Regions from separate parts of the Homo sapiens genome. Here regions 1 and 2 are each linked to region 3. The links come from fine-mapping of genetic effects on gene expression. A gene starts in region 3. Each other region holds a variant in brackets. All regions are shown on one strand. Distances are from middle to middle.

Evidence for each region.
Region 1: its variant is fine-mapped to the expression of TESC in thyroid (GTEx, PIP 0.99).
Region 2: its variant is fine-mapped to the expression of TESC in whole blood (INTERVAL, PIP above 0.99).

The regions. Positions count from the first base shown.
Region 1 is chr12:117,068,044-117,070,798 of GRCh38, forward strand. The region is part of intron 2 of TESC (tescalcin); the gene reads right to left. Among named protein-coding and RNA genes, the nearest start is that of TESC, 30 kb to the right of the region's middle. The variant G/A (reference allele first, on the strand shown) is at 1,161.
Region 2 is chr12:117,060,578-117,063,332 of GRCh38, forward strand. All of the region lies in intron 2 of TESC (tescalcin), which reads right to left. Among named protein-coding and RNA genes, the nearest start is that of TESC, 37 kb to the right of the region's middle. RefSeq lists enhancers at 1,836-2,612, 2,613-2,755. The variant C/T (reference allele first, on the strand shown) is at 1,204.
Region 3 is chr12:117,098,349-117,101,103 of GRCh38, forward strand. It overlaps TESC (tescalcin), which reads right to left and starts at 1,068. Exons shown (of 8, transcript NM_017899.4): 1 at 877-1,068. The coding sequence starts at 934. It overlaps TESC-AS1 (TESC antisense RNA 1), which reads left to right and starts at 1,119. Exons shown (of 3, transcript NR_120464.1): 1 at 1,119-1,296; 2 at 2,105-2,292. RefSeq lists silencers at 464-563, 634-743, 804-1,323, 1,062-1,200, 2,067-2,284.

The DNA.
Region 1 (2,755 bases), 30 kb before region 3:
ACCATGCCCGGCTCATTTTTAAATTTTTTTTGTAGAGACAGAGTCTCACTGTGTTGCCCAGGCTCGTCCCAAACTCCTGGATTCAAGCAATCCTTCCACCTCGGCCTCCCAAAGTGCTCAGATTACACGTGTGAGCTACTGCACTGGGCCAATCTTGTGGTAACTTCAAAAAATGACAGAGCAGTGGTAAGAACACTGCTGAGGGCCTGGGTGTGGTGGCTCACACCTGTAATCCCAGCACTTTGGGAGGCCGAGGCGGGTGGATCACCTGAGGTCAGGAGTTTAAGACCAGCCTGGCCAACATGGTGAAACCTTGCCTCTACTAAAAATACAAAAATTAGCCAGGTGTGGAGGTGGGTGCCATAATCCCAGCTACCTGGGAGGCTGAGGAAGGACAATTGCTTGAACCTGGGACGGGGAGGTTGCAGTGAGCCAAGATCGCGCCACAGCACTCCAGCCTGGCTGACAGAGCGAGACTCTGTCTCAAAGAGAAAAACAAAAGGAACACTGCTGAAGGAAGAAAAACAGGACCTGGAGTTAGGACATTTTGCTGACGCCCCACTGTCTGGGCTATCAGAACATGGGGCTGCACGTTGGTGGCATTTGACATGGAGCATGGAGTCCCTTTTTTTTCTCTTCCCTGTGTACGTCTGTGGTTGCATTTACCTCCGGAATTACTCCACAGTCAATGGCTCGATGAACCTAAAAATATTTTTTGTAATGTGGCTTTATCTAATCATGCCTCCTAATGGCCTGCACCACTACATCTGAAGTATTCCATAGCGTCTATTTCTGGCATTTATAAGCCTGCCAGCGTGCTATCAGGAAATTAAAAATTGTTGTTTAAAACATTTACCAGTTAAGGGGCCCAAAAAGAGAAAGAAAAAGTGCAAGAAGCTATTTCTGTATTTTCTTCATTATTTAAAATTCTGACCTTTTAACAGGTTTACCTGTGGAGGTCGCCTCTGCTAGATGGAAAATTTCTGAGTGTACAGGGGAAGAGCCCCCCGAATGGTAGGTGGCTAATGAACGTGTTAGAATTAGATAGAAATTCCTTTTTTTTTTTTCTTTTCTATTCAGGCATTTTGCCGAGAGGCCACAGAAATTCAGTGCTTTGTGGTCTGGATGAATTCAGGTCTTGAGGATCCTGAAGCATATAC[G/A]ATTTGGGGGTTCCCTCTTTTAAAAAGGGAACATAACAAAATGAAATTTTTTTTGAGACAGAATCTCGCTCTGTCACCCAGGCTGCAGTGCAGTGTCATGATCTCAGCTCATTGCGACCTCTCCCTCCCATGTTCAAGCGATTCTCCTGCTCAGCCTCCCGAGTAGCTGGGATTACAAGCACACACCACCACGCCCAACTGATTTTTGTATTTTCAGTAGAGACGAGGTTTCACCATGTTGGCCAGGCTGGTCTGGAACTCCTGACCTCAAGTGATCCGCCAGCCTCAGCCTCTCAAAGTGCTGGGATTACAGAGTGAGCCACTGCGCCCGGCCAACAATATGAATGTCTAAAAATCAGGTACCGGGCTGTGTAAAGAACCCACGCAAAAGTAAGGCCTTGAAGTGGGGCTTTCAATGCCGCAAGACGAACCCTCCCCTAGATGTCCTCAGATGACTTCTGGAAAGAGATGGGACCAGGCCCAACACAGATAAGAAACGGTGGCTTAAAAACAAAATCAATTTTGGTCCATCAATTGCCTCATGAGAGTTTGTAAAGCTATATTCAATTTGTCAAGCCGCACATTTAGAAATCCAGTTCTTCTTTAAACTTCTAAGTGCAACTTACAAATCTTATTCATCTGTATCTAAAGCCTGTGGTTCTGAATGATCATTTTTAAGGGGACTTTTGCATTCAAGGTCTTCACGAGCCTCCTGTGGGATCCTCATAAGCACGTGGGTCCTTCGCTGTCTGAGCGGGAAGGGGCAAAGGAGGTGGCACCCTCTCCCCCATCGCAGATTGTAGTGGGGTGCCAGGGGCCTTCACTAGGGAACCCCAATCAACGCCATTTTCATGTGGGGGAATGTCCCCAGAAAGAAAAGGAATTTTGTCCATGCTCTGAAAACCCAGCACAGCCCAGGGCCTGTTGGACAGCTTCCAAGATGTGCCAGGATCTGAGAGGTTGAAGACCGGGCCTGGGGTCACTTAGAAAACCCCTGGCAGAGAGGGGACAGCACTGGGGATCAGTTCCCAAGCCAGGGCTGCTCAGGGGAAGATGGGCAGGAAAAGGCCAGGGGAACCTTGAAAAGCTACCTCATCTCCCTTCTCTAGGCCCTGGAGGGTGGATTAGGATTAGGCAAAGCAGTTCTGGGAGGCTGGAAGGAGGCCCTTCCTGTAGGCCTGTTTGCATAAGAAGCTGTGGTCAGTCACCTCCTTCCTGCAGGCTGGGCTGGGGCTGTCACTATGTGCAGCTGACACGAACCTCGAAGCCGACTCTGAAGCTCTGAGACCAAGGCAGTGGTGACGGGAATTATAAACGCACCTCCCCCACCCCCAGTAGCAGGGCAGGAAGACTGAGGTCCTTAGAGATCACTTGCAAATCAAGACAATGCCCCTGGCTTCCTACAGCAGGATCTTGGCGCTGGGTTCAAACCCCAGCTCCTCCACTTATGAGCTGTGTGACCCAGGGCCAGGTACATGGCCTCTCTCTCTAGCCTTACTTTCCCATCTGTAAAATGGGGAGAGTGAGCGTCCCTACCTCTACTTCCTATGGGGTTCTGTAGGACTGAAGTCAGCCTGGGCGACATGGTAAGACCT
Region 2 (2,755 bases), 38 kb before region 3:
AGCTCACAACCGTGCAAGCAACTTGGCCGGAGCCACCTCGCTTCCCAGAGACCCCACAAGGGCTCCTATTATCCACGACGCTTCAGGCTCAGCACAGACAGGTTCGGCAACCTGCCCCAGCTCACCCAGTGGGGGCATGGAAGAGTCAGCTTGGAAGCCAGGTAGCGTACAGCCATGCTCTTACCAGATACCCTGCTGCCCGACTCTCCCTGGCCATCCGAATAGAATCCATTTTCCAAGGCCCAGATCCCTGAGAAAGGGACCACGTGGAGCTCCAGAGGGAATCTGGGAGAACAGAGAAGCCGCTGGCTGCTATGCTGCTAGCCAAACCCTCTCTGGCTTTCACTGGCTGTTGCTAATCCTTCCTGAGTCTGTTTTCTCGTCTGTGAGGAGGGCACACTGATACTGACAGAGGGTGAAGGGCACAGCCTCTGGAATCACACTTGGGCTCTACCCTACTCTGCTACCTGGGTCAAACGGCGTTGCCTCACCCAGCCTCTGTCTACTCCTTTGCAAACAGGAACCTCACAGGGTTGCCGTACAGTTTAGAGGAGATAAAGTCTGCAACATGCTCAGCACGGTGTCTGGTGAACTGGGAGTGCACCACAGATGGCACCTTGCAGGATGGGGACCCTGTGATGTCCACAGCACCCCGTCCTCAGTGCCTTGCACTGCTGGGCTTGGCAAGGTGGTCAATAAATGGTTTGCTGAGCGAATAATGAAGCGAATAATGAAGATGGCTGCACGCAGGGCTTCCCTCTTTGTCTGGCCCATCCTGAGGCACTGCCCTTCCCCAGGTGCCTTCCCCAGGGCCCAGGTGTCCAGACCCTGGAAGGAGAGCAGACCCCAATGTCCCAGGAGAGAGGGAGGAGAGGTGGGGGAGAAACCACCTAGAAGAGCCTGACCCATGTGCCTGGAGAAGAAATTAACTCAACACAAGAGGCCTGTCCCCAACCAGCAGCAACAAGACATGCTTGACCTGCTAGGAATTGAGCTGGGGACACAGTGTCCCCAGGTGCTGGCTTCACAACCCCCAGTGGGTGTGTAAATGGCTCTGAAGCCCGCTGCCTCTGCTCTCTCTCTCTCTCTCCATAGGCACCTGCTACATCCACACCTGACTCTCACCTCCCCCTCACCACTGGTGCCTGACTCTTGGAGCCTCAGTTTCCTCATCTGTGAGATGGGTGCAGACCTAATCCTTCC[C/T]ATATCAAAGGGGATGGTTCAGGGTCAAACACAAGGTGGGGAGAGGGGTGCTGGCCCAGGCTCTGCCCCTTACCAGGCACATGGTCTTGAGTAATCACAGCATGTCTTCAAGCCGTGATTTCTCATATGTAAAATGGGGATCATAGGAATATCCAGGTAACATGATGGGGCTAATGAGATGATCAAATGAGATAAATCCACATAAGATGCTGAGTAGGCTGCCTGACACAGGATGAGCTCTTAATTTTAAAATAATAACAGTAATAACGGCAGCAGCAGTAACAGTAATCGCTGCAGCAGTATTAATAGTAGTAATAATAATAATGTAACAGCAGCTAACCTACGTACCCTCAAAATGGAAGGAACTATTCTAAGAGCTTTACATTATTACATAGGGTTCACAACAACCCTATAAAGTAGGTACTTATGCCCATTTTATTTTCTTAATTTTTTTTTTTTGAGACGGAGTCTCACTCTGCCGCCCAGGCTGGAGCACAGTGGCGTGATCTCTGCTCACTGCAACCTCCACCTCCTGGGTTCAAGTGATTCTTGTACCTCAGCCACCCGAGTAGCTGGGATTACAGGTACCTGCCACCATGCCCAGCTAATTTTTGTATTTTTAGTAGAGATGGGGTTTCACCATGTTGGCCAGGCTGGTCTCGAACTCGTGACCTCAGGTGATCTGCCCTCCTCAGCCTCCCAAAGTGCTGGGATTACAGGTGTGAGCCACTGCACCCGGCCTGTGCCCATTTTAAAGATGAGGAAACTGAGGCAGAGAGATGAAGCCACTTCTCATTGTTAAGAATGATACTGGCGGACCCAGGCAGTGGCATGGTGGTTGGTGCCTGGCCTTCAGGGACTTTCCCTAAAACCTGCCAATGTCCCTTTTCAACAAGGAGAGCACCGGCCTTGAGTCCAGCGCTTAGGACAGGCTAACCTTTTCATTTCATCAGTTTCATGCTCCATCAATACTCGTGTCAGTTTTGTTTTCCTTCCTCCCTAGGTCCCCGCCGGGCTGGATGAACCGGCTTTTCTAAAGGTGTCGCAGCCCAGGCTGCAGCCATGGGAACAGGCTCTGCCTCACCTCAGAGCCCAGGGCTGACGGCAGGTCACTGCCCTCAGCCAGAGCTGATTCTCATGGCCAGTGGTGTTGCCCCAGTGACCATCAGGGGTAGCGGGGATTGCCCAGGAGGGCTCCAGGGCCACACACCTTCCAGGCCTCCTGCGGGAGAGCTTGAGCCCTCGGGGCTTCAGAATGTCCCCCTGGAGTCATGAAGGGCTCGCGTGACATCAAGCTGTGCTAAGCACTGCAACACTTAATCACCCCCACATAATCATGAGTGGCAACAATGATGATCCTATTTTACAGACCAGAACACAAGGCCCAGAGAGGCAAAGAGACTAAGCCCCAGTCACACAGCTAGAGTTGGCGCGGGACTCCAGCTCTGCCTCCAGGCTGGCTCGAACCATCTTGCGCTTCCTCACTCTCACCACTTCCTTCCTTCCAGTTGCGCATTTTTACGTTAAAGAGAGAAAGAGCGAGGCATCTGCT
Region 3 (2,755 bases):
TCACAGCCGGTCTGTCGCTCGCCAAAGCCGGTTTGCCCACACACCTGGCCCCCGCGGTCTCCAGTCCACACCCTGGTCCACAGCCAGAGGCAGAACTGGCCATGCCGAGTTCAGGACCCAGGGCCAAGTCCCCAGCCCGGCTGAACTCGGGCAGAGAAGCGCTTTCTCCGCCATTTCCCTGCGGGCAGCTCGGCCAGGCCTCCCAGGGCTCCCCGCCTCCGGGCCGATGCGGGGCGCGCAGCCTTTGCTGGTCCCGGGAGACTCAGCGAACTCAGGGGAGGACGCTGGGCTCCGGGCAAAGTGCTCTGCGGCCGCTGCCTCGCTAAGTCTCCCAGCCACCCGCGGGGATGAGGCTGCCTGAACCCATTTTACAGATGCGAGGACGAAAGCAGGCGCCGGGCGCCGGCTCTCCCGACTAAGGTCACCCGGCCGGGGAGCGTCGGAGACCTGTTCCCACCCAGGTCCGCCGACTTCAAAACTTTCCGCTCTCGCGCTCACGAATGCAAACGACTCTCAGGTGTGGGGCGCGCGCGCCAGCGGGGGTGCCTGAGGGACTTGCCCGCCCGGCCTGAGGCACCTGCCCTGCGCTTGGGAAGCCTGGGCCCCGCTCCCTCCCCGGTCCGCAGTCCCCCGGCCAGGGAGTTCCCGGGCCAGTCCGAAGCTGAGCGGCTGCGGCACTGAGCATCGCCGCGGAGCTCCTCGCCGCAGCCCGCGAGGTGGCCAGCGGGGACCCATTTGAAAGAGGAGGAGACTGAGGCGCAGAGAGGGCCCGCCACTGGCCCAAGGTCACACAGCGCGGCGGCGGGCCGGGGTCCCCAACAGTGGCCGTTCGGAGGTCCCGCCCCGGTCCCCGCGCCGCCCCCCGCGGGTACTCACAGCCGGTCTTGCCCTCGAGCTCCCGCACCTCCTCAGACGCGGAGTGGGCAGCGCCCATGGTGCCCGCGGCGGGGGCCCCGGGGCGCGCGTCCCTCTCAGGCCCCGCACTGGCTTCGGCTGCGCAGCGGCGGGACTGGCCTCGGGTCCGGCCTCGGGTCGGGACGCCGGCGAAGGCTCGGAGCCGCGGGTTCCGCGTGGGGCCGGAGCGGGGCCTCATATAACGGCGGAGGGCGGCGCGCCGCGGTCCTAGCGCACGCCGGTTTCGCGCACTGCGCGGCTAGGGGAGCGCCCCGCCCCGCCCCGGCCCGGAAACCGCCGGGAAGGGGACCCCGGAGCCCACCGCTCTGGAGTCCCCGTTCGTGCAGCAGTGCTCACGTACCTCGTCCCTTCCGCACACCTGCTGGATCTGGAAGGAAGCAGGTGTGAGCAAATTTGGGGGCGTGGGTAGGAGGGGTGGGACCCCTGGGAGGTGCTATGCCCACTCCCAACCCATCCCACCTTACATCCTCCAGATCTTAGGAGGGAAACTCCACTGAGATAGTCAAGGAAGTCAGCGAGCATGAAATAGCTCTATGGAGAACAACAGTAATAATAATCCTATTTGAAAATGCACCATGCGCTTTGGTTTTTTCCAGGAAAGCCCCAGCACCTTCTGAGGTGAACACACCCACGTGGCGGCCCGTGTGGGCCCTGCACAGCCCGGTGGCTGAGAGGCACCTCAAACTGCAGGAGCGGGCTGGGCGCATGGCTCACGCCTGTAATCCCAGCACTTTGGGAGGCCAAGGCGGGCGGATCACTTGAGCTCATGAGTTCGAGACCAGCCTGGCCAACATGGTGAAACCCCGTCTCTACTAAAAACACAAAAATTAGCCAGGCGCGGTGGCACATGCCTGTAATCCCAGCTACTCCGGAGGCTGAGGCAGGAGAATCACTTGCACCTGGGAGGCAGAGGTTGCAGTGAGCTGAGATCTTGCCACTGCACTCCAGCCTGGGCGACAGAGCAAGACTCTGTCTCAAAAAACAAACAAACAAAAAAACAACTGCAGAAGTGGGCCCAGGAGGCTGCATTTGGGACAAACTGCTGGAGAGAAGGCAATGCCGGTGGTCCCCATGCCCATTAGGGAAGTTCTGGGTTAAGATGGCTTGAGGGGTTGGCTCTCCATCCAGTTGGGGTGACTGGGGCCGATGCTGTTGCCTGTGTAATGTGATTCCTCCTCCTTAAAATAAGGATAAGTTAATGAGATGTCCACCAGAGGGCCTGGCGTGGACACAGCACATGGCCACAGAGGCTGGTGGGCGCTATGGAATCTTGTCCCCTGGAGAGGCACACAGCCAGGGCAGAACATCAAGGTCAAGGCTCTCCTGAAGGCTCTGCAGTGCTTAGTGACACCACCATCAATGACCGTCAGGTATCAGGTCTGTTCTGAACGTTAGTCTCGATGATAAATGTTGGGGAGGAAGGGGGACAGGGTAGGGGGCAGGAGTTTTTCGGTGCCCACAGAGGGGACTCGGGTGGACCTACCTCCATCAGTTTCACAGGCTGCTGGGAAGGGGGCTGCTGAGAACTGCTGTTCATTCCTGCAGACTACAGGCTCAAGCCAAGGGTCACAGCCCTTTCCAGGGGCAGGAGGTGACTTTCAGAGCCCGAGGTAGAGGGTGGGAGTTGGTCCTAAAACCTCCTAGAGCATCAGAATCAGCCCCTTCCTGGTTGCAAATCCAGCTTTTGGCCAGGTGCAGTGGCTCATGTCTGTAATCTCACCACTTTGGGAGGCTGAGACAGGAGGATTGAGCCCAGGAGTTTGAGACCAGCCTGGGCAACATAGCAAGACCCCAGCTCTACCAGCAATTAAAACTTTTTAAAAATGAGCTGGGCACAATG